Linked DNA regions of Homo sapiens: all the other regions are linked to region 3. The links come from fine-mapping of genetic effects on gene expression. A gene starts in region 3. Each other region holds a variant in brackets. All regions are shown on one strand. Distances are between the middles of the regions. Region 1 holds the start of LOC102724754 (a long non-coding RNA gene). Region 2 has its middle 23 kb from the start of RALGPS2. Region 3 holds the start of RALGPS2 (Ral GEF with PH domain and SH3 binding motif 2). Region 4 overlaps RALGPS2 (Ral GEF with PH domain and SH3 binding motif 2).

What was found.
Region 1: its variant is fine-mapped to the expression of RALGPS2 in whole blood (TOPMed, PIP above 0.99).
Region 2: its variant is fine-mapped to the expression of RALGPS2 in skeletal muscle (GTEx, PIP above 0.99).
Region 4: its variant is fine-mapped to the expression of RALGPS2 in whole blood (TOPMed, PIP above 0.99).

Annotation. Positions count from the first base shown.
Region 1 is chr1:178,935,183-178,940,335 of GRCh38, forward strand. LOC102724754 (a long non-coding RNA gene) reads right to left here and starts at 3,889. Exons shown (of 3, transcript XR_426873.4): 1 at 3,635-3,889; 2 at 2,777-2,894; 3 at 1,717-1,796. RefSeq lists an enhancer at 3,988-4,487. The variant C/T (reference allele first, on the strand shown) is at 2,057.
Region 2 is chr1:178,700,167-178,705,319 of GRCh38, forward strand. No RefSeq gene overlaps it. Among named protein-coding and RNA genes, the nearest start is that of RALGPS2, 23 kb to the right of the region's middle. The variant T/A (reference allele first, on the strand shown) is at 2,505.
Region 3 is chr1:178,723,222-178,728,374 of GRCh38, forward strand. It overlaps RALGPS2 (Ral GEF with PH domain and SH3 binding motif 2), which reads left to right and starts at 2,023. Exons shown (of 20, transcript NM_152663.5): 1 at 2,023-2,198. RALGPS2-AS1 (RALGPS2 antisense RNA 1) reads right to left here and starts at 3,063. Exons shown (of 1, transcript NR_187252.1): 1 at 1-3,063. RefSeq lists silencers at 1,797-1,951, 1,853-2,022, 2,283-2,402, 2,603-2,832 and an enhancer at 2,373-2,962.
Region 4 is chr1:178,882,633-178,887,785 of GRCh38, forward strand. RALGPS2 (Ral GEF with PH domain and SH3 binding motif 2) reads left to right here. Exons shown (of 20, transcript NM_152663.5): 11 at 834-901; 12 at 2,444-2,579; 13 at 3,337-3,488. Among named protein-coding and RNA genes, the nearest start is that of ANGPTL1, 14 kb to the left of the region's middle. The variant C/T (reference allele first, on the strand shown) is at 2,563.

The sequences.
Region 1 (5,153 bases), 210 kb after region 3:
CATAATGGTGGCTGGCTATAATGATTACCTATAACTATATAATTGGGAATAAACTGAAACAGGTGCAAACTCTAATCAGCCCCAAATAACATCTTAATGACAAGTAGAGGACAAATTAAATGGAAGCAAAGTCGTAGGACAGAGTACAGAAAAGCATGGTGACAGGAGTTTCTTGTCTGTCTCTAAGGAAGTAGGATGGGATGGAGAGTCAATTCAATTTAGACAGAAGCTGAAGATCAAACAACAGAACATTTTAGCTTCTATTTTAACTATGTATTTTACAGCTGGATTCCAAAGAAGATAAATAAATTATATTTGCACCTATCATCTTTTCAAATATCTTTGCCAACAAAGTCATTCAATATATTGAGTGTCCCTGTGGTCAAGATCTTACACATTTAATGTATGAAAGAGGAGAGACAAGGCCCTGCAGCAGAAAATCTCACAATTTGAGGGAGAAGAAATGGGAGCAAGGAGTTGTTTAAGAAAGACAAAATACATACAAAGTAATGTGTCCGCAAGTGGGAGCCATGATAGCTGTGGGTGTGGAGTTGCCACATGATGATGTTCCATGGCTGGCTGCCTGATCAAGCGGAGCCTCAAAGGTCATCTGTGGCTTGGTAGAGGCCTGGGTCCAGATCGGGCCCTTAACTTTTAAGTTTCAGAAACCCCATGTTGTAATCAGCCCACACAACGTTGACCAGGCCTCAAGGAATGGACTCTTGCCAACCAAACTCCCATAGTAGACTGACGGGAAAACCAGCATGCCAGTTGAAGTAATGTACCATCAGAGACACACCTTTCTAATTACTATGCAGGGGACCCCTTTCTGCTGTGTACCAGAAAAACTGAATTAGCATTTAGAAAACTACTTGTTAAACAGGAATCAGGGTAAAAGAAGTCTTCAGGAGTGTGTGGCTCAGATCGTTGGTACAGTCTGGAACATTTTTGCCATTCCCTGACACCCCTGGGGAAACACTAGCTAGATTCTTACTCTTCACCTCTCTTCTTCTAGGCTCCTTACAGACTCTTTCATGCCTTTAATTATCTTTACTTCTCATCAAATAACATGACTTATTACAACTTACCTTGTCATTACTTTTTGTAATTTAATCTTCCAATAAACTTTGGGTATCTAATCTTGATGTAGCAAACCATGAAATCCTCAGCAATATGTTTGCAAAACCACCCCAAGGATGGGTTGCATCTGCAAGTGTTTAATCTCAATTTATATTGTGAAGATTCTTATGGCTTCCCCTTCAAATCCCGACACCCTTTGACCTTGTCCCCAAATTCCAGAGGTGCTATTATCCATACAGACATATGTTATAGATTCCAGAAGTGCTAGAAGATTCTGGAAGATAAGAGGAACTGAATTTATATTGCTCTGAAACAGGATGCACAGAAAAGCAAGTCTCACACCACTCCTCTTTCATGTCTGATGCAGCACAAGTGTATAGACAGCTCATCCCTGGAGCTCATGATAACAGAGTTCCTTCTAGCCTACTTCAGTTGTAGTCAGCCCTAGCTACTATAACAAAATACCATAGACTGGGTGGTTTAAACAACACACATTTATTTCTCACAGTCCTGGAGGCTAGAAAATCCAACATCAAGATACCAGCAGATTCTGTTTGGGTGAGGGCTCTTGGCTTGCAGACAGCCACCTTCTCACTGTATCCTCACGTGGTGGGGAGAGTGAGCTCTGGTCTCTTCCTCTTCTTATAAGGACACTAATCCAGTAATGGAGGTCCCACCTTCATGCTCTCATTTAAATCTGCCAGAGGCACCACCTCCTAATAAATACCATCACACTGGGGGTTAGGGCTTCAGTATATGAATGGCAGGGGCACATTCAGTCCATAGCAAATGCCCACCAGGTTCTGCTATACCAGATATTTTCTATTAAGTGGAGAAACTGTAGATAGTTTTCTTTTTTTTTTTTTTTTTTTTTTTTTGAGACGGAGTCTCGCTCTGTCGCCCAGGCCGGACTGCGGACTGCAGTGGCGCAATCTCGGCTCACTGCAAGCTCTGCTTCCCGGGTTCACGCCATTCT[C/T]CTGCCTCAGCCTCCCGAGTAGCTGGGACTACAGGCGCCCGCCACCGCGCCTGGCTAATTTTTTGTATTTTTAGTAGAGACGGGGTTTCACCTTGTTAGCCAGGATGGTCTCGATCTCCTGACCTCATGATCCACCCGCCTCGGCCTCCCAAAGTGCTGGGATTACAGGCGTGAGCCACCGCGCCTGGCCAACCGTAGATAGTTTTCAGTACACATACAACCATTTTGGTTTTGGGGGCCCAAACAAAAGGTGGTACAGAAAGTTTGTTTTCTAACCAGCTTATTAAATGAGTTTCAAGTACAGAGTAAAGAAAATTAATGTAACTAAATCTTGGGACATGATTTTACTGAGGATTGTCCAGGGTCTTTTGAGGCCGCAATTAGAGATGAGACCAGACCTTTCCATTCCTCATCTGCTCTGCTGGACTCCAGAGCACTGCCTTCCTCCAAAAAGGAAAATTAGAAACAAATTCTCAAGTGGTTTGATAGTAATTCAGCCCAGCAAATTTTACTTTCCATTAAAAGTCACCAGCTGTCATGTGCTTAGCTTTAAATGGAAATAACTTGCTCTCAAAAAACATTTTTCAGTTGATGTCACTTGTGAGTTTTATTTTCTCCTAATGAAAAATGGATTTGCATTAGTGCAACTTTGGGGACAGGAAACCCCTGGATGGAGGCCTGAGCTGGTGATCTGCCCCTGCCCTGAGGAAAGCTAATTACCGGCCGGCCAGCGTGGAAGATTGATGCTGCGGTCAGGAGGGGACTTTGGGGAACAGAGGGGAGGAGTGTTGATAATGGTCTGTCTTCTTTGCAGTGAGAGTCCCCACGGTGCTTCTTCCTTTAAAAAAAAAAGAAAAGAAAAGAAACGTAAAAAATGCTTTTAAGTGTTGAGATTTTGGAGAGGGCAGTGAATATTTTAACACGATTAATGTTTTTTAGGGAGGCAGCCCTTCTCAGCCTCTAATACTCCCGTGCTCAGAGCCTGTCACATCTGAGGCCTCATCCCTACAGAGCTCTCTGTGGAAGAAGACTCTCTGTGGCCCTCCACTGTGTTCAGGTGCCTCCCAGAATCTCTTGTCGGTGACAGCTGGAATGATCTCTTCATGACCCTCAAGAACAAAACAAAGAGAATCTCTCGACTGAAGCTCCTTGAAGGCTGAACTAGTCCCTTACGCAGTCCTGCCTCTGTGGCACCTCACAGGAGAGCCAGGACACTCAGGAGCCCCCTGCAGTGGTCCTGGCAGACAGAGGAGGCAGGAGGGCAACGCCTAGAACCCTCGGCTTTCCCTACTGGGAGCCCCTGGTCAGGGTGGGCAGAGCAGACTCTTGAAGAGTCATTCCAGCAGGGGCCTGACCCACTGAAAAGAATGAATGGAGAGACCAGAGACACTGGGAGCTGGTGGAACTGGGAAACAGAGAAAGGGAGAAGCCAACAGCCACAACATTCACAGGCCCCCAGACTGAAAGCTGGCAGTGTACTTAAAACCGTGTCCTTAAGTGGGCTGTCTTGCCTCACCGGTCCCCTACATACATGCACACGCATGCACATGCACACACACACAGGCATCACACACCCACCTCTGGGGCACTGTCCATGAATACAGCAGCACTCAAACCTGGGGCTATACCCAAGTGCCATCCCAGCCTAGGCAAAGCTTCCCTCAACCCCCTGTCTCCATGCTCACAGAAAGGGCTTAGAAGTGTCCAAGAATTTTTGAATAATGTTCTTGACAGACACCAAAGCTTTTTCCTCCTCCAGAGCGTGGAGGGCTGGGGCTGCCCCCAGGGAAGTCTCCCCTGGCAGCTCCTGTCTGAGCAGCTGGGGCCAGCTCCAGGAACACTAAATTCTGGCTGCGTTTCCAGTCAAGGCCGGGTTACTTTAGAATCCCTCTTCTCCCCCCTTGTCTTTTCAAGCAGGAGCCAGCCAAGGTATTCGTCATGTTTCCGAGCTACCCTGCTGCTTGATTTATGTGCACGCAGGGCTGGGACGAAGATGCCAGAGCGGGGTGAAGGCTAACCCCGAGGGTGAGGGGAAGTGGGGTGCTGGACTCTCCCGTCACCCCAGGGGCCACTGAAAGGGTCCCTGGTTTTTGTATCAACTGTGTTCAGCTCAAGGTTGGAGACCATGTGGACGCCACAGCCCCGGGAGCAGAGGAACAGAGACAACATGCTCTCCAGCTCTCTTGCTCTTGCTCTCTTTTTTGTGTCTCACACTGTGAGATCTTGGCCATAAAAGGAATGAAGCTTTGCTTGCCCTCTCACTGGGCTTCTCCTAAAAGGGCTTTCCGAAAAATTTCCAGCCTTCTCCTTCGGGACACTGGATGTGGTCTCTTTGGCCAAAGAGAAAACGAGTAACAGACGAAGCCCTTGCAGATGAGGAGGCCAAAACCGAAATGTTAATCACCTCGAAATATGTGCACTGCTCTCTCCAGTGCCTCGCTTGGCTCTCCTCAGAGGATCTTTGATGGGGGATTTTCCCCCTGGGGGTGGGGGATTTGCCATCAATATTTGGGAACACGTTTGAGGGTCCAACTTGCAATGACAAGATAATTGTCATTCAGTGTCTAACGTGCCTGTTGTGGTGACTCTGAATGGTTGAAATATTGATTGCAGCTCTTGGTTAAACTAATACTCCTACAACACTCCCATAAAAGCTCAAGATGCTGTCATCCAAAATGAATAAAAATGCCTCTTTTTATTCCACTGCATATGAAAACATGAGATCATTGGAATATATTTAGAGTGAGATTTGGCAGCCTATACATGTTTACAATTCTTGGACTCAAAGCTCTAACGTGAATCGGAGGCACTCTTTTTCGTCTTCGCCTTCTTTTCTTTCTCTAAGAAGGTGAATGCTGATTCCAAGAGTTCATAATCCCTTTTCTTCGTATTACCCAAAGTTAACCTTGCTAAGAGACTAATGACATCCTCAGTTCCAATGGCCAGCTAGAAAGCCTGAGCCTTGACGTGTTAATGCAATGATTCAACCACTGACGTGGCTCCTCACCATCCATCACCCAAGGCAAAGCCTCCACTGGGCTTGAGAAGATTATCCAAAAGTCCTGCCGTTTCCTCAAGTCTTTGAACCATGACTGGG
Region 2 (5,153 bases), 23 kb before region 3:
TTGGCATGTTCATTGTTCAGGGTATTCTCTCACCTTTTAGTGTCTGCAATATCTACAACATGGCCCCTTTTTCATTCCCAGTATTGTTTATTGATGTTCTCTTTTCTTTTTCTTGATAAGCTACCAGAATTCTGTCCATTTTACTCATCTTTTCAGAAAACTTTGACTTTGTTGATTTTATCTAATGTATTTTTCCCATTAGTTTCTGTTTTCTTAACTGAATTATTTCTTTTTTCTACTTTCCTTGGATCTGTGCTGCTTTAGCTGGGTGTTTGGCTCATTAACTTTCAAACTTTCTTCTTTTGTCTGAGTACTACTGCAGTATTTTCATTATGATTCAATTACAAATATTTTCTCGTTTTCATTATCATCTTTGCTCTCTGAGCTATTTCAAAATGTGTTTGTTAATTTTCAAATGGGTGAGTTTTTACTAGTTATCTCCTTGATATTTATTAGTAATTTAGTTGGACTATATGAAGAGAATGAATAAATATATTGTGTTATCTGGCATAATATAGGTTACTACTATATAATTATATATTAATTGTATTAATTGTGGCTATCTTTGGCTTATTTCTACCATCTTATTTTGTGTTATTTGTCTTGTTTTTTCTTCCACTGTGTTTTTTTCTATCTTTTCTTGTCTTTTTTTAGACTGATTGAATATATCTTTCTCCTCCCATCTGTTTTTTCTTATAATAATTAGGAAGTTATACACTCTAATCTTATTCTTTTAGTGACTAAGGCATTTTAGTCTGCCTACTTGATTTATCAAATTCTAACATTTATCAATACCTTTATTTCCCTCTTAAATAACATAAGAACATTTGAACATTCTATTTCTATTTATCCCTTGACTTATATGTTATTGCAGATGTGCACTTATTCTTTATTGATTTTGAACCCCACAAGGTGTCGTTATAGTTTCATCTAGTTTAGATTTATGTTTACTCACATGTTTACCATGTTTTTGCTCATTTCTTCTTGCATCTCAGACTTTCCATTTGAAATTATGTTACTTTTGCTTGAAATATATTCTTTAGAATTTTCTTCAGTAAATTGGCAAACTCAAATTCTGGAAAGATTTTTTGCTGGCTATACAATTTTAGGTTGAAGATTATTTTCTCTCAACCCAGTGAAGATATGATTTACCACCTTCTGGCTTTCACTGGTGCTGTTTAGTCTAATTTTCATTCCTCTGAAGATAATGTGTCCCGCCCCCTGTCTTTTTTTGAGATCTCTTTCACTTTGCTGTTCTGCAGTTACACTAGATGTGTAAATATGATTTTTTAAATTTTCATTTATCTTACCTAAGATTTTTTAAAACCTCACATAAACATGTGAAAAAGACCAAAATTGAAGAGGTAGTAGGGGGTCAGATTATGAAGGGTTTTGAAAGTCAGGAATTTATTCTGTAGAGCAGTGATCTTTAAGCTTTTAGCTTATGCATATTATATAAGAATTTTGAAAAATGTGTTCTCTTGCACATATTTAAGTTGACATATACAGTTTTCATCATAATTAAATAAGTTTACTTCTTGCTAATAAAAGAGAACATATATTAAATATTTTATAAACTAAAATCAGGTGACAATCAAAATTAGAATACTTTTATGATATGCCTTGAATATATCATATTTGATATATATTTGGATATGGTTATATGCTATTTGAAGTATATTGGTGCACTTATCAAACAAATCATGCCAATTTTAAAATAAATCACATACAATTTTTACTAGTTTTATTAAATGCTTTTAAAATTTTATACTTTAAAATATTATAGTTTCATTTAAAAGAATAAGAATTATTTACCTGTACTGCTTCAAATGTTCTGAATTTATACCATCCCAACATGAAACCAACACTGTTTCTAACTTCAAACTTCACTTTTAACAGAAATATAGGTAAAACATTAAAAGGTAGGAAGACCCATGGATTTAAGGTGCTTTGATTAATCCTTAAGGAGGCCTCCCTGGAACAAAATTGTCATTCCAGTTGGGGCCCTTTCAGGCTGCAATCTTGTCACAAAAGAAGTCTAAACAAACTCTACAAAGTCGCAAAGATTTTAGCTGCTGCCTGTGATACTTTTTCTCCCTGTCTCCCTCCCCTCCACCACCCCTCACTTTTATATATGCAAGCAAGCCTGGATGTGTCACATTTACTTTTTGGAAAGGGACTTACGCAAGACACAAGAATTTTTGCCCACAAACAGCTGCTTCAAAGGCAGAGGGAGTGAGACCTTCTTTTTGGTGCAAAAATGATTAGTTATGGAGAGGTCCCAGTCTTAATTCTATTTGGAGGTGGGTCCAAATGACCTAATAAGCAGATCCTTCTCTGCTCTTTATTGTAGTATTAAACAAGAAACTGACACAAGTTGGGTCATAGAGTTTTTCCACAGGCACATGTAAGCATTCCATGTTGTATTATTGCAATACTGTGAAATTCGTCTTTTTGAGAAAAGCACACACAGATCTTGGCATATTTTACTTGAAAACAATAAT[T/A]GTTACTATTAGTTATTTCCACTTTTTTTTTTTTTCCAAAAAGAGAATATGGGAAGAGTGGTGCTATGGTAACTACAGAGCTATAGAGAAGAATTTGACCAAGGGGATCCTAAAACAAGGTTTAACACATGTTTTATGGTTAAGCATTAACTACCATCGGTTATAGGTTGTATATTTGATATTATATATACTATTAAGTAATTGGAAGAGGTAAAACAATAGTGATTAAGAGTGTAAGCACAAAACCAGAGCTAATAAGGGATAAAACCGAGATTTTTTTTTTTATTTTATTTTTTTGAGGCAGAGTCTCACTGTGTTGTCCAGGCTGGAGTGCAGTGGTGCAATCTCAGCTCACTGCAACCTCTGCCTCCTGGATTCAAGTGATTCTCCTGTCTCAGCCTCCCAAGTAGCTGGGATTTCAGGAGCGCACCACCACGCCAGGCTAATTTTTGTATTGTTAGTAGAGATGGGGTTTCACCATGTTGGCCAGGCTGGTCTCAAACTCCTGACATCAAGTGATCCACCCACCTCAGCCTCCCGAAGTGCTGGGATTACAGGCGTGAGCCGCCATGTCCGGCCAAAACTGAGATTTGAACCCAGACTGCCTGAGTTCAAATCTCAGTTTTATCCCTTATTAGCTCTGTGAACTTGGGTAATTTTCATAACCACTCTGAGCCTTAGTTTTCTCATCAGTGTAGAGGACTAAAATGTTATCTACCCCAGATGATTGTTTTAAGGATTACATCAGTGCCTATTTCCTCACCTGTAAAATGGTCTCTTTCTCTTAAGATTGTGGTGAGGATTAAAAGGGTTATATGTGAACAATGCTTAGCATGAAGGCCTGGCTTATGGTATAACTTCAATAAATTTATTTTGTTAGCAAGTAGAGAAATAAATCTGACTTAACAATATAAAATTAAATGTTTATTTTACTTTTGCATAGCATATTACAACTGAGAATTTGGAGATTTAACACACTCTATTGATAATGAATATGATGAAAGAGAAACAGACAAGGCATTAACTTTGAAGAGAAAATTCGTTGACATTTTTGTATTTCATTGTATAAAATACCAATTAAATGTGATGGAAAATTATAGCAAAGACTTACAAAGACTTCAATGATTTTCAAATTTTTAAATAAAGCATATCTTGATTTTAGTTCTTTGTTCAACTCTATTATGGAAATGTAATGGCAATGCAATTTCTCCTTTCTATCTTATATTAGTTCTCTGGTTTAGCTCTAGCTTGTCGAGTGGAAACATGATATGGCAAGACAATAAATTGCCTATTAAAATCCAATGTTTTTTTAATTATGTAATTACGATTCAGGGTTACATGTTCTAGATTCTGAATGGCATTAAGTTGGGTTTATATAGTATTAAAACAACCAGATTTTAAAAAAAGAGTCAGTCAATTACCTATATATTTGTAAGACACCAAAATTAATATCTTGAAACATCTTTATGATTGAATGAATTTTTCACTTTTTATTTAGACATTTGTCATAGCCAATAAGGCATATGCTAAGTACACAAAGTGATTATCCTAAAGCTGGTTTTGGCTTTTTGAGTTATCCAATGTAAGCTATAATTTGTCTCTTTAATTTCCCTAATTTTCAAGCTGGAGATAACATTGAACATTACAGGAGACAGCTATAGTTTTGATTGCCCAGAGCCATCCAACTTTATTAGAGCATGGCGGGGTTATCAGTCACAGTACTCTGCCATCTACTCCCCACATCATGGTGACAAATAAATAAACTAGACCTGGCTAATCAAAGAAATCCAGCTCCTCATGTCAAGTGATTGGCTCAGGGGTGGACACACAACCCCAAATAAGCCAATCAAAGCCCTTCACTGGTACTTTTCAGCTGGAGCTAGGGTGGAAGCCTGTCCTCATTTTGAGATTTATGGGCTGAAAGGATGTGTATCTGGGGTGCTATCTTCTCATCTGTAGAAATAGATGAGGTCAACACACCAACAGAAGATCTGAAAGATGGAAAGAGGGGGCTTAATTATATTGCTTGGGTCCCTAGATTTAGTTCATGTCTGACATTGTGTCCTTACATCCCAATACACATGTGTGTTTTACAGATAGTTTGAATTGGTTCATGGCACTTGCAACTGAAGGAGTTCTGATAAGTACAGACATCTTTCTAATTTGTTTACAGCTGTAACAATTAACTGTGAAAGTCAATACATTTACAATGAAGTATGTTAAAAACATTGTCCAAGTGTGACTTGAACCCAGGCAGGATAACACAGCAGTTAAGAGTCCAGGCTCTGGAGTGGAACTGTCTGCTTGCCTGCCTACTAAAAAACACCTGGGTCTGAGAAGCTTTTGTCTCTCTAGAGAGGATACATGCTGTCTGGTTGCCACAGAGAGAGCCTCAGCACACCAAGGCACCCGAGCTGATTTCCAGTTACTATTGGCACTGACACTGCTGCCAGTCTTATAGGTCTTTTATGAGAAATGTCAACCTTTTCTTGTATCTGTTTCAAAACTGGGAAGAGAAAGGTAGAATGAGAGAATCAAGAAACATAGGAGATAACTTTTTTCTGTGGATGGGAAGAACATTCCTATAGGTTGTGCCTATGAGGAAAGAATCCAATCTAAGCCACCAATAGTAAAGCCACCATTTATTCG
Region 3 (5,153 bases):
TTGCACTCCTGACCTCAGGTGATCTGCCTGCCTCAGCCTCCCAAAGTGTTGGGATTACAAGTGTGAGCCACCACGCCCGGCCTATATACAAATTCTTAATCTTACCAAGTTCACAAATTTGAACTTAACACAACTCTTAAGGTTAATAAAAGTATTGTTTTATAAGTTATCAATGTGAGAAACAGATTTGGGGTAATTATTCAAACTCAAATTCAGTAGGCATAAGAATTTAGTGTATCCATGGCCTTGCTCATGAGTCATATGTTTTTTTCTTTTCAAAGTCCAAGTGAAAACTTCACTGCTTTTACAATAAGCTGTGAAAATTATTGGCAGATGTAGGGACCCTGCCTCATTTATATCTATGAAACCCTAATTCAAGTTTCAAGTAATTGTATGACATTTAACAACATAAGAGTTCCGTTCCTCAGTTTTCATATTTCTTAAGAGCAGTTAATTATGTGTGATAATGGTATGTATGTTGCATGTATTATTGTTGGCATATAGCCAACGACATTTTCCTTAATCTCTTAGTAACACTTTAAGAAGACTAAACATTTACCCAACTCAATAACTGGAAGGGGTTTTTCCTCCAAGTGCTAATTCATTTAGTTGTTGTTTATTTGGGACTTGAAGCAACTAACATCTATGCGAAAACTTTCTGTATACATAATGCACTTCCCTCCTTTTTACCAATCATCTTCCTTTTTCTTTTCTTTTTTGGACTCTTGTCATTTGAAATATTGGGTGGGGGGGAACGCTTTTTTTCTTCTTTTGATTGCTCTACTTCTTCTAGTGATTTCGTCATGATTCAAGACTTTCTTTGAAAGTAAAATGGAATAAAAATGAAACACTACGAACTTTGTTGCCTATCCTCGCTGTTTTTCTTTTTGACTTAACTTTGCGTTGGGGTGCTTTAAAGTAACCCTATTTGAGAGAAGGAGGTTGAAGGGCATTCTAGCGTCCCCAACTAGAGTAAAAGGGCTATGACAGAAGGCAATCAAAGGAGGAAATAATTAGCAATCTTCAACGTTCAAGATTAATCAGTTCTGTTTAGCGGTTATTAAAGGGAAGAAAGAAACCAAATGGGAATAGTGAATTATTGGTCCTTTCATGTTTTACACTTAATGCTGGTACATAGTATTCTTTCCACATTCTACTGCACATTGCCTAGAGAAAGAACTGCAGATCATCAAATAATTATCCATTTCCAAATGGTCTAATGACAGCAGATACAAAGGCGGCTCACTTAAAACCTTCCGTTAACAGTCACACTGCATCAAATGGTGCTAGCTTTAAGTAGGCCACCCATTTAGTAGACTCTGAAACAACACCTTTCCGCCCAATTTCTGTCATTTGCTCCTTAAGTCAAGGGTAGTACCCTGCGTAACATCTTACAAAGGCCTACTTCTAACACTTCCCGAATCTTAATGTGTGAGGATGTTGATCACCATAATTTATGACCTTATCTAAGACAGTGGGGTGACTCTCCACATTGGGAGCCCCCTCATTTGTCCTCAGTGACTTCTAAAAACACCGCTGGCGTGGGCTGGATATTTGATCTTGGGGCCAAGTGCTTCCAGACTTTGTTCTCTGGCCTTAAAGGTGAAGAGCCCGGCGCTGAAGGCCACAGACATCACGGCGGATTTCACAGAGGGCCGCGTTCCGGGAGCGGGTGGCCAGGCGGTGGCGGACGCCCCACCTGTCCATCCTCCTACCCCTTCCCCCCCCCGTTGTTTGGCCGGTGGGAGCCCCTCCTTTCAGCAGGCGCCGGGCGGTGGGGTTGCGGATGGCTGCGCGCGCTGCGGGCACCGATCACCGGCGGCAGTTGGGCTCCGCGGGGCCGAAAAGCTGCGGGCGGGAAGCGCGAGGTTAAGACCCTGACGGCTGCAGCTCTCAGAGCCCCCGCGAGCGCGCTCCGTTGGTGCGCGCGCGCGCGCGGCTCCGCCCCGCCCGCTTGGCGCGCGCCCCCGCCAGGTCCGCTCTCGTCCCCCACCCCTGGCGCGGACGGGGTGGTTCCAGCTCACTCTCCTCCCCCGAGCGGCAGCGGCGGCGGCGGCGGCGGCTGCTGCGGGCGCTGAATGAGAGACGGTGACTGTTCGGGTCGACGAGTGCTACTCTAGGCGGCGGCGGCCGTGGCGGTGAAGCGTGAGGCCGGCATCGTCTTTCCGTCCTCTGAGGCGACGGCCGCGGCTGCACAGGTCGGTGGGCTCAGGCCGCGGGGCGGTGCGGGGGAGGGAGGGAGGGAGGGTGGGTACGCGGCGCCCCCCGGGCGGCGCGGGGAATGGCGGCGGCGGCGCTGCGGAGTGTGGCTCTCCCGGCCGCGGGCCCCGGGGCTGCTCGCCCTGCGCGCAGGGAGGGGGCTGCGGAGCTGGGGCTGAGGCTGAGGGAGAAGGGCGCTGGGCGGCGCGCCTCCCTCGGCCGCGGGTTCTCAGAGTCGGAGCGGCCGTGGGGTCCCCGCTCGGGGGCGCCGTCCTGAAGCCGGGGGCGCTGCGACCCCTTGAACCCGCCTCGCTCTCCCTCTTGGGTGGCGGAAGCCCCCAGCCTCCGCCCGCTCTGTTCTGGCGCCCAGCGGCGCCTCAGTCTTCCTTCAGGTGAGCCCGATCCCGGACCTCGGAGCCAGGACCAGCAGAAGCCGGGCCACACCCCCTCCCCTGGCCCTGGCGGCTGCGCCCAGAAGCCTGGCCGCAGAGTTGGCCGCCCGCGAACCCGCGGAGTCGCGGTCAGGGTGACCTGTTGCAGAGCGGCCCGCAGCCCGAGCGGCCCCCGCCAGCCCCGGCCCCGGAGGGGCTGCGTCCTGTGCTGGCCTCGGGCCGGGCGCGCGGGCCGGGTGTGGGGCAGGGGCCGCAGCCCCAGGTCGGCTTGCTCTACGGCCTGGAACCGGGCTCTAGAAAAAAAAGGAGATTCCGAACGTATCTCATCAAACACTTGCAAAGCCGGGAGATCTGTCTGCAAATATCCGGAATTCCATTGCAGTATCGGATTAGGTAGGCTCATAAACACCGTGCTTTTGAGGTGATTTGGAAGAAACGCGAGCCACGAGCGAGGAACTAGTTTCTGGAAAATAGCCGTAAACCTGTGCGGAGCGAATTATTAACCCCCCGCCCCAGCTCCCCCCTCGAAGCTCTTTTCCTGTAGCTGTGTGTTGTGTAGACGCAAGCCAGTTTCAGTGTACGTGGGCGTGTTTGGGAAGAAGCTGCGAGCTGATAGGAGGTACCTAGTACAAATGTTAATTTGTTTGAGTTGGGAGGGGTAAGGGAGGAGGAAGAAAGGGCACTGATGTTAGCTGTGGAGGAGGGGCAATTGAAATACTAAATTTCTGTTAAAAAAAAAAAACCCCAAAAGAAATATCTAATGCCTACTGTGTATTTAAGACCATAAAGTGGAATCACACAAGCAGCAGTTAATTGAGCTTTATCGTTTATGCTCCCTGGATTTTTTTTCCCCAACACTTTAGTTGCTATAGAGAGCCTTTTCTTACCAGTGTTCATGAGTTGACTTGGGTATTTTTCTGTGTCCACCATTAGATCGATTCCTGTTCAAGTTTCTTTGAAGATGACCATCAGAATTTTAGGAAACTTTTCAGCCCGTGTTTGCAGAGTATCGCTGTTAGACAGATCATAGCTTGCTCATTATAAAGCCTGTTCCACTCAAGATCATTATGCTTGTACAAGTGCTATAGAACAAGTGCTATAGAATCATACACATAAGTGTATTACTCTTACGGCTAAATATCTTAATTTAGAATTATGAGGAAACTTCCAAAACTGAGCATCCAAACAGTATTATTTTAACAAAGATAACCTCTAACTCAAGCTTTGTAGGCATGAAGTTTATCATGTAGCTTCAAAGGTCTTTTGAGGCAGATCTAAATATCAAAATGTAAGGGCATTAATGCCATTTGGGATAAACAATTTCAGTGTATTTATTTTAAGCGTAGTTCATTTTTTCTTTTTAAAATTCAGCATAATTTTTGAACGGTAAGATGTGCGTTTTTCCCATTATATTCCACTTTTTTTTTTTTCCTTTTAAGATAGGTTCTCCTTATTTGGCTCAGGCTGGTCTCAGACTCCTGAGCTCAAGCGATCCTCCCGTGTCAGGCTCCCAAGAAGCTGGGACTACAGGCATGCGCCACTGTGCGTTATTTCACTTTTCATTGAATTAAGGAATTTGACTTTTAGTAATACTTTGGGGCAGGACTCTGGAAATACTGTTTAGTTTGCCTAAATTTTTTCAGATTGCAACGTAAGTTTGAAGATAATGCTTGCATTGGCAGAACACAACGTGCTTTTCTAATATTTATTAGTAATACTAGAAAGAATACAACAAATTTTCCTGAGAGAAAACATAACTGAAAAACTGGCTTTGTGAGTCAGATACATATGTGAGTAATATATTTTTGTGTGTGTTTTTAAATACCTGGTACGAGTCTTTTTATTACGTCATTAGAGTTCAGTGTAGTGAATGATGGATATATAGGTGAAATTGTCCTGTTGCAACTTAAAACACTTAAGCTTTTTCCAGAGACTCAGTTCATTCTGCACATGTGTATTGGGTACCTACTTGGTGCCAGTTAGTTCCCTAGAGGTTGGGGACACAACAGGGGAGACACAACAGGGCTTATCATTTAAGCCCTGATGGGGCTTAAATGATAAGTGGGCAAATATGTTTGTTTAAAAGTTTAAGAAGTAGAAACTCCTCTGATAACTTTTTGGTTAAGGATATTGTTTTTTTCTTTCTGAGAATTGTGGGAATTATTGCCTAGCGAACAAAAACATTAAGACAATTGTTTTTAGAATATGCCTATGTTTATATACTTTGGGTTTCTGGTTACCAAGTATACCAAAGATAAACATTCTACCTGAAGTCAGATGATGCGTAGTTTACATGTGGTTAGACAGCCTTATTCTTTTGGTTTATGTAGTTAAATGAATGTTTGCTGAAAATATTCTCTCGGCATTTATTTATAAGGGAATCTAAATTTCTTTTTTGGTCTAAAATTTTAAAATATCACCTTTTTATTTCTGGCTGACTGTGAGTGAACCAATTCCTTGATAATCTGCTTTTTCAGAAATTTTTAAATAACTTTTAAACCATAAACCAAACTATTAATTGAAATTTATTGAATCAAATTTGTTTTCTTTTGTGAGTTAAAC
Region 4 (5,153 bases), 160 kb after region 3:
CCGCAATATTAAGCTTCGTGTATTACACCAAAGCATTTTCTACAACTACTTTAGTGTCCTGTTTTCTGAAATAGCTTCCACTGATAGAAATCATAATCTCTTTCACTGTGAAACTCAGAACTGGATATATTATCCTAAATGAAACTTAAGTACCATATAATAAACTCTGACTTAGGACAGGGACTTACTAGGAATTTTGCAAACAACATTTTTATTTGTATAGATCTTTCTGCTGAAGAGTTCTGTCAGCTGGTTTGTTAGATGGTTAGTTTTAAATAAGGTGTTTTTAGAAATAATTTGCATAATATATTTAATAATACATATGAAAGTTTCTGAATTTAAATGTAAAGTATCAGTGTAAGCTCTAAGTTGAATCATCATTTAGTCATTCATCAAATATCTTTAAATGTGTTCCATGGTTTGGCAACTTTGGGGTAATTGGGGAGATTTTTGTGTTTTTAAATACAACTTTTTAATGTATTTTCCCTTCCTAATATTTCCTAAAATAACCATAAGATCAGCTTTGTATGAAAGAGATAAGAGACTTAACATCTTAATTAAAAATTGCCCTTGGCCAGGCTTGGTGGCTCATGCCTGTAATCCCAGCACTTTGGGAGGCCAAGATGGAAGGATCGCTTGAGCCCAGGAGTTTGAGGCTTAAGTGAGATTCCCTGTCTCTTAAAAAGAAGAAGATTGCTCTTGAAGAAAAGTATATAGGTCAGATTATTTCATAAAAATGTTTTTAGTTTTTTTGTGAGAAAATACACAACTTTAATCTTATTTTGTCAAATGTTAATTAATCATTGTATGTATTTTGTCTTTTTAAAATTCAGGCTTTCATTAAAGATAGAACCAGGGACAAGCACCCCACGTTCTGCTGCTTCCAGAGAAGATTTAGTAGGTCAGTACGTAGTTTTCTCTTGTTACCAAATCTAAATCAGATAACCTAATAAGGAAGAATATACTCCAAAGTAAATAAAAACTTAGTACATCTTATACTGCATGTAAAATTTATTTTGATATTAAAATCTGTCCTTTCTGGGTTTTTTGGTTTTTAATTTAAAAGTTGCTGGCCGGGCAGGGTGGCTCACGCCTGTAATCCCAGCACTTTGGGAGGCCGAGGCGGGCGGATCACAGGGTCAGGAGATCAAGACCATCCTGGCTAACACAGTGAAACCCCGTCTCTGCTAAAAAAATAACAAAAAAATTAGCCGGGTGTGGTGGCGGGCACCTATAGTCCCAGCTACTCAGGAGGCTGAGGCAGCAGAATGGCGTGAACCCGGGAGGCAGAGCTTGCAATGAGCCGAGATCGTGCCACTGCACTCCAGCCTGTGTGACACAGCAAGACTCCATCTCAAAAAAAAAAAATGTTGCTATAGTTTGTCAGTAGTGTACAAACAAGTATGCTACCTAATCAAGGAAAATAGATAGATGCAACAGATGGAAAATAATAGATAAGTAGTTATGAATATTCATTTTTGATTAAGAATGCACTGTCCTAGGCAATGAAGGTTGATTACACTAGAAATTTCTGTGGTCTAATGGGAAAGTCTACTAATTTGAATAATTATAGAAGTCAATTTTAGTGACGTAATTTTTTCAAATGTTCACTTTAATACTAGACCAAGTATTAAAAATGTAAAAATCATAGTTCCTTACTTTACCTGTTACATTGTAATGGGGATATTATGCATATACCACAAATAATTTTTTAAAAAACATAAAATTATCATTATTTAAGAAATCCCTGATAAGTACCTTTTTTAAAATTCCCAATATAGGCCTTCGCACTAAGTTTCATGTATATTCTAAAAATATTTGATGGCTAATCTGATAAGATGTGAAGTGGAGAAACAAACCATGACAATGTCTATGGGGAAGAATATTCCAAGCAGAAAAAACATTGCAGTTTAAATTTCTTAAATTTGCTTTTCTTTTTATTCTTAAAGTGCTGTTTTGCACTTTTATAATATTCTTTTATTTATTCCCATAAGCCTGAACAGTGTCAGTGTAGATTTAATTTCTGATTTGAGTGTTTGACCTACCCTACACATTCTTTATCTAAGAGGAAGTTGAAACTAGGAGTAAAGAAGTAATGTATAAAATTAAAAGAGCACTGAACCTAGGACTCAGAAGACCTGTGTGTTTAGTCCAGATTTTGTCTGTGATGTGAAAGCTAGTCTCTTCTAATTCTACTTCTTCCTATGTAAATGGAGAAAATATTTACACTGCCTCTACTTAGTATAAGTAAGATAAAAATTAATGGATTTTGTATGGTTTGGGATTTTGTGTTTTAGGACTTAGATATATTTCTCATCTTCAAGCCAATTAAATAGAACTAACATCAGTACTATCTCAAAATTTGAACCACATTTAATATTTTCTTTCAAGGGACTGAAAAATAAAGTAATCATTTGAAAATCTCTTTAAATTTAACCCTTAGGTCCTGAAGTAGGAGCGTCTCCACAGAGTGGACGAAAAAGTGTGGCAGCTGAAGGAGCCTTGCTCCCACAGACACCGCCATCCCCTCGGAATCTGATTCCACATGGACATAGGAAGTGC[C/T]ATAGTTTGGGTTATAAGTCAGCATTTTTAATTTTATCTTTCAAATTTTTAAGTCTTTTGTAATTGGATTTATTGTCGATTTATTAGTTCAGTAGAAAATGGTATCCTTGAATAGTTTTCTTTTTTCTTAATAGCTGTTTTCTGATTCAGTAAAATGCCTTGTTTGCCTAAAAGCTTTTATTTCTTACTTTACCTGAATTTGGAAATGGGATTTTGTCAACAATGCATTTATATTTGGGGACGATAAATGAACATTACAGAGGGCCATCATAAATAAAATCAGGATAGCAATATACCTTTTTAAAAGAGTTACAACCTTTATATCAAGACAGTCATTGTTTGTCTTAACCAAAATAAGTCAAAAATAACAGCTATAAAAATTATTTTCTTTATTCCTAAATATAAAGAAAACTGACTTTTTGTTTAACTTCATTAGTTTTGCAGTATTGTTTTTTCAAAATGGGGACACATGTTCACTTTTGCCATGATTTCTCTGGAAATGTAATAACTGTTCTCCAAAAGTGAATGTGGAAACAATTTTTTAAACGGACACGAGGCTTAAAATGAAATTATTTTAAAGTATGCTCTAATTATATAGATAGATAGGGCCAGGTTTCCTAAAACATTTTCCCTAAACTGTTCATTTGAGGCTTTTATGGTAAGATCTGAGTATGACAGTTAGGTAAATCTTTTATGTCCTAAATCTTTATATAAAGAGCAGTTTTTAAATTAGTAACAATAATAAAAGATATGAACTTTTTTTTCTGTTTCTAGTTTCATTCATAAAATGAACACAGCAGAATTTAAGAGTGCAACGTTTCCAAATGCAGGACCAAGACATCTGTTAGATGATAGCGTCATGGAGCCCCATGCGCCATCTCGAGGCCAAGCTGAAAGTTCTACTCTTTCTAGTGGAATATCAATAGGTGAGAAATACTTCTCTGAGAGGGTTGCAATTTAACTTTAAATAAAAATGTTAATAAAACTTGGCTGGAAAAAAACCCCACCCACACACAGAGAAAATTTGGTTAAAAAAACAAAGTAGCAGTTAAATATGGGATGAAGTTAATAATTTGTGATGGTTTTAAAAGTGCTTGCTGTTTTTAACTCCAGAAGGGGAAGCATTTGAAGAAGGTGGAAAAAGAACATATGGGCTGGTTGAATTAGTTAACTGCATGTGATTTGGATATGGGGAGGAGGAAGAGTGTGGAGTCAAGAATGACTTCCGGTTATTTGGGTTAAACAAGTATAATAGTTAGATGATGATGCTATTACCAAGGTAGAGAAGACAGAGTAATAATCTGTGGGCAGTGAAGCGTTTGTGAATTTGGGGAATCAGGTGTGTTTTGGACATGTTTAGTCCCTATGGAGATGTCAGGTAGGTTGTTGAATATGTGAATCTGGAGCTCGGGGATAAGGTCAGATCTGAAGATATACGAGAGGTAGCATATTTATAAGCCATGATTGGTTGAGGGTACCTAAAGAGAGAGTGTACATAAATAAAAAAACATTCTCACATTTAGAAGTCTGATTATTTTTTAAAAGAAGGATGAGTCATCAAAGGAAACTAAAAAGGAGAGATCAGTGAAGTAAGGGGAAAAAAACAAAAGCCCAGTAGATGAAGTATCTCAAGGAGGAGGAAAGTACTGAATGTGTGAATATCAAATGCAGAACAAGAGAGCTAAGATGAGAATGGGGAATTGACTGGGGGATTTGGCAAGATAAAAGTCATTGGTGACCTTGATAAGAGTTGCTTCATGGAAGTGTCAGGGCATGGCCTGGATTGGAGTAGATTTGAAAATGAGAGGTGAGGAAACAGAGATAGCTACTGTGAAGGAGAGCAGAAAATAGAGACCATATTAGAAAGGGATGTGAGATTAAGAGAGGGATTTGTTTGTTTTTACTTCCTAAACTTTTAATTTTTGAGTCTTCTAGATGAGCATTATTTCTTGTTACAATTAGAAATTATTCATATAGCCTGGGCAGTGTGGCTCACACCTGTAATCCCAGCACTTTGGGAGGCCCAGATGGGCAGATCTCTTGAGGTCAGGAGTTCAAAATGAGCCTGGCCAACATGGCAAAACCCCATCTCTACTAAAAATACAAAAAGTAGCAGGGCGTGGTGGTGCATGCCTGTAATCCCAGCTACTTAGGAGGCTGAGGCATAGGAATCATTTGAACCCAGGAAACAGAGGTTGCAGCGAGCCATGTTCGCAGCACTGCACTACCCTGCCTGGATCACAGAGCGAGATTCTGTCTCAAAAAAAGAAAGAAATTGTTCATATAATAGCTACTTTTATTTTTAAAAAGAAATAAAGGAGGAATATGTCTTCATCTATGATTAACTACCAGATTGTTCAAGGACTAAGCCTATTGTTACTAATATCTTAATATTGGTAAACAGCCAGTAGAAGGAGATGCAAAAGGAGATTGATTTTCTGGAACATACTGACTTTCTTAGCCCTTGAGAGTTAAAATTAAATTATTTCAGAGCTCTCCATTACCATTCAGTAGTTGTTTATTCTGATAGTCCCCTTTTTATATAAAAATACAAGTGATTAAATGATAAAATGTTTTAAAAAGAAGGCAAG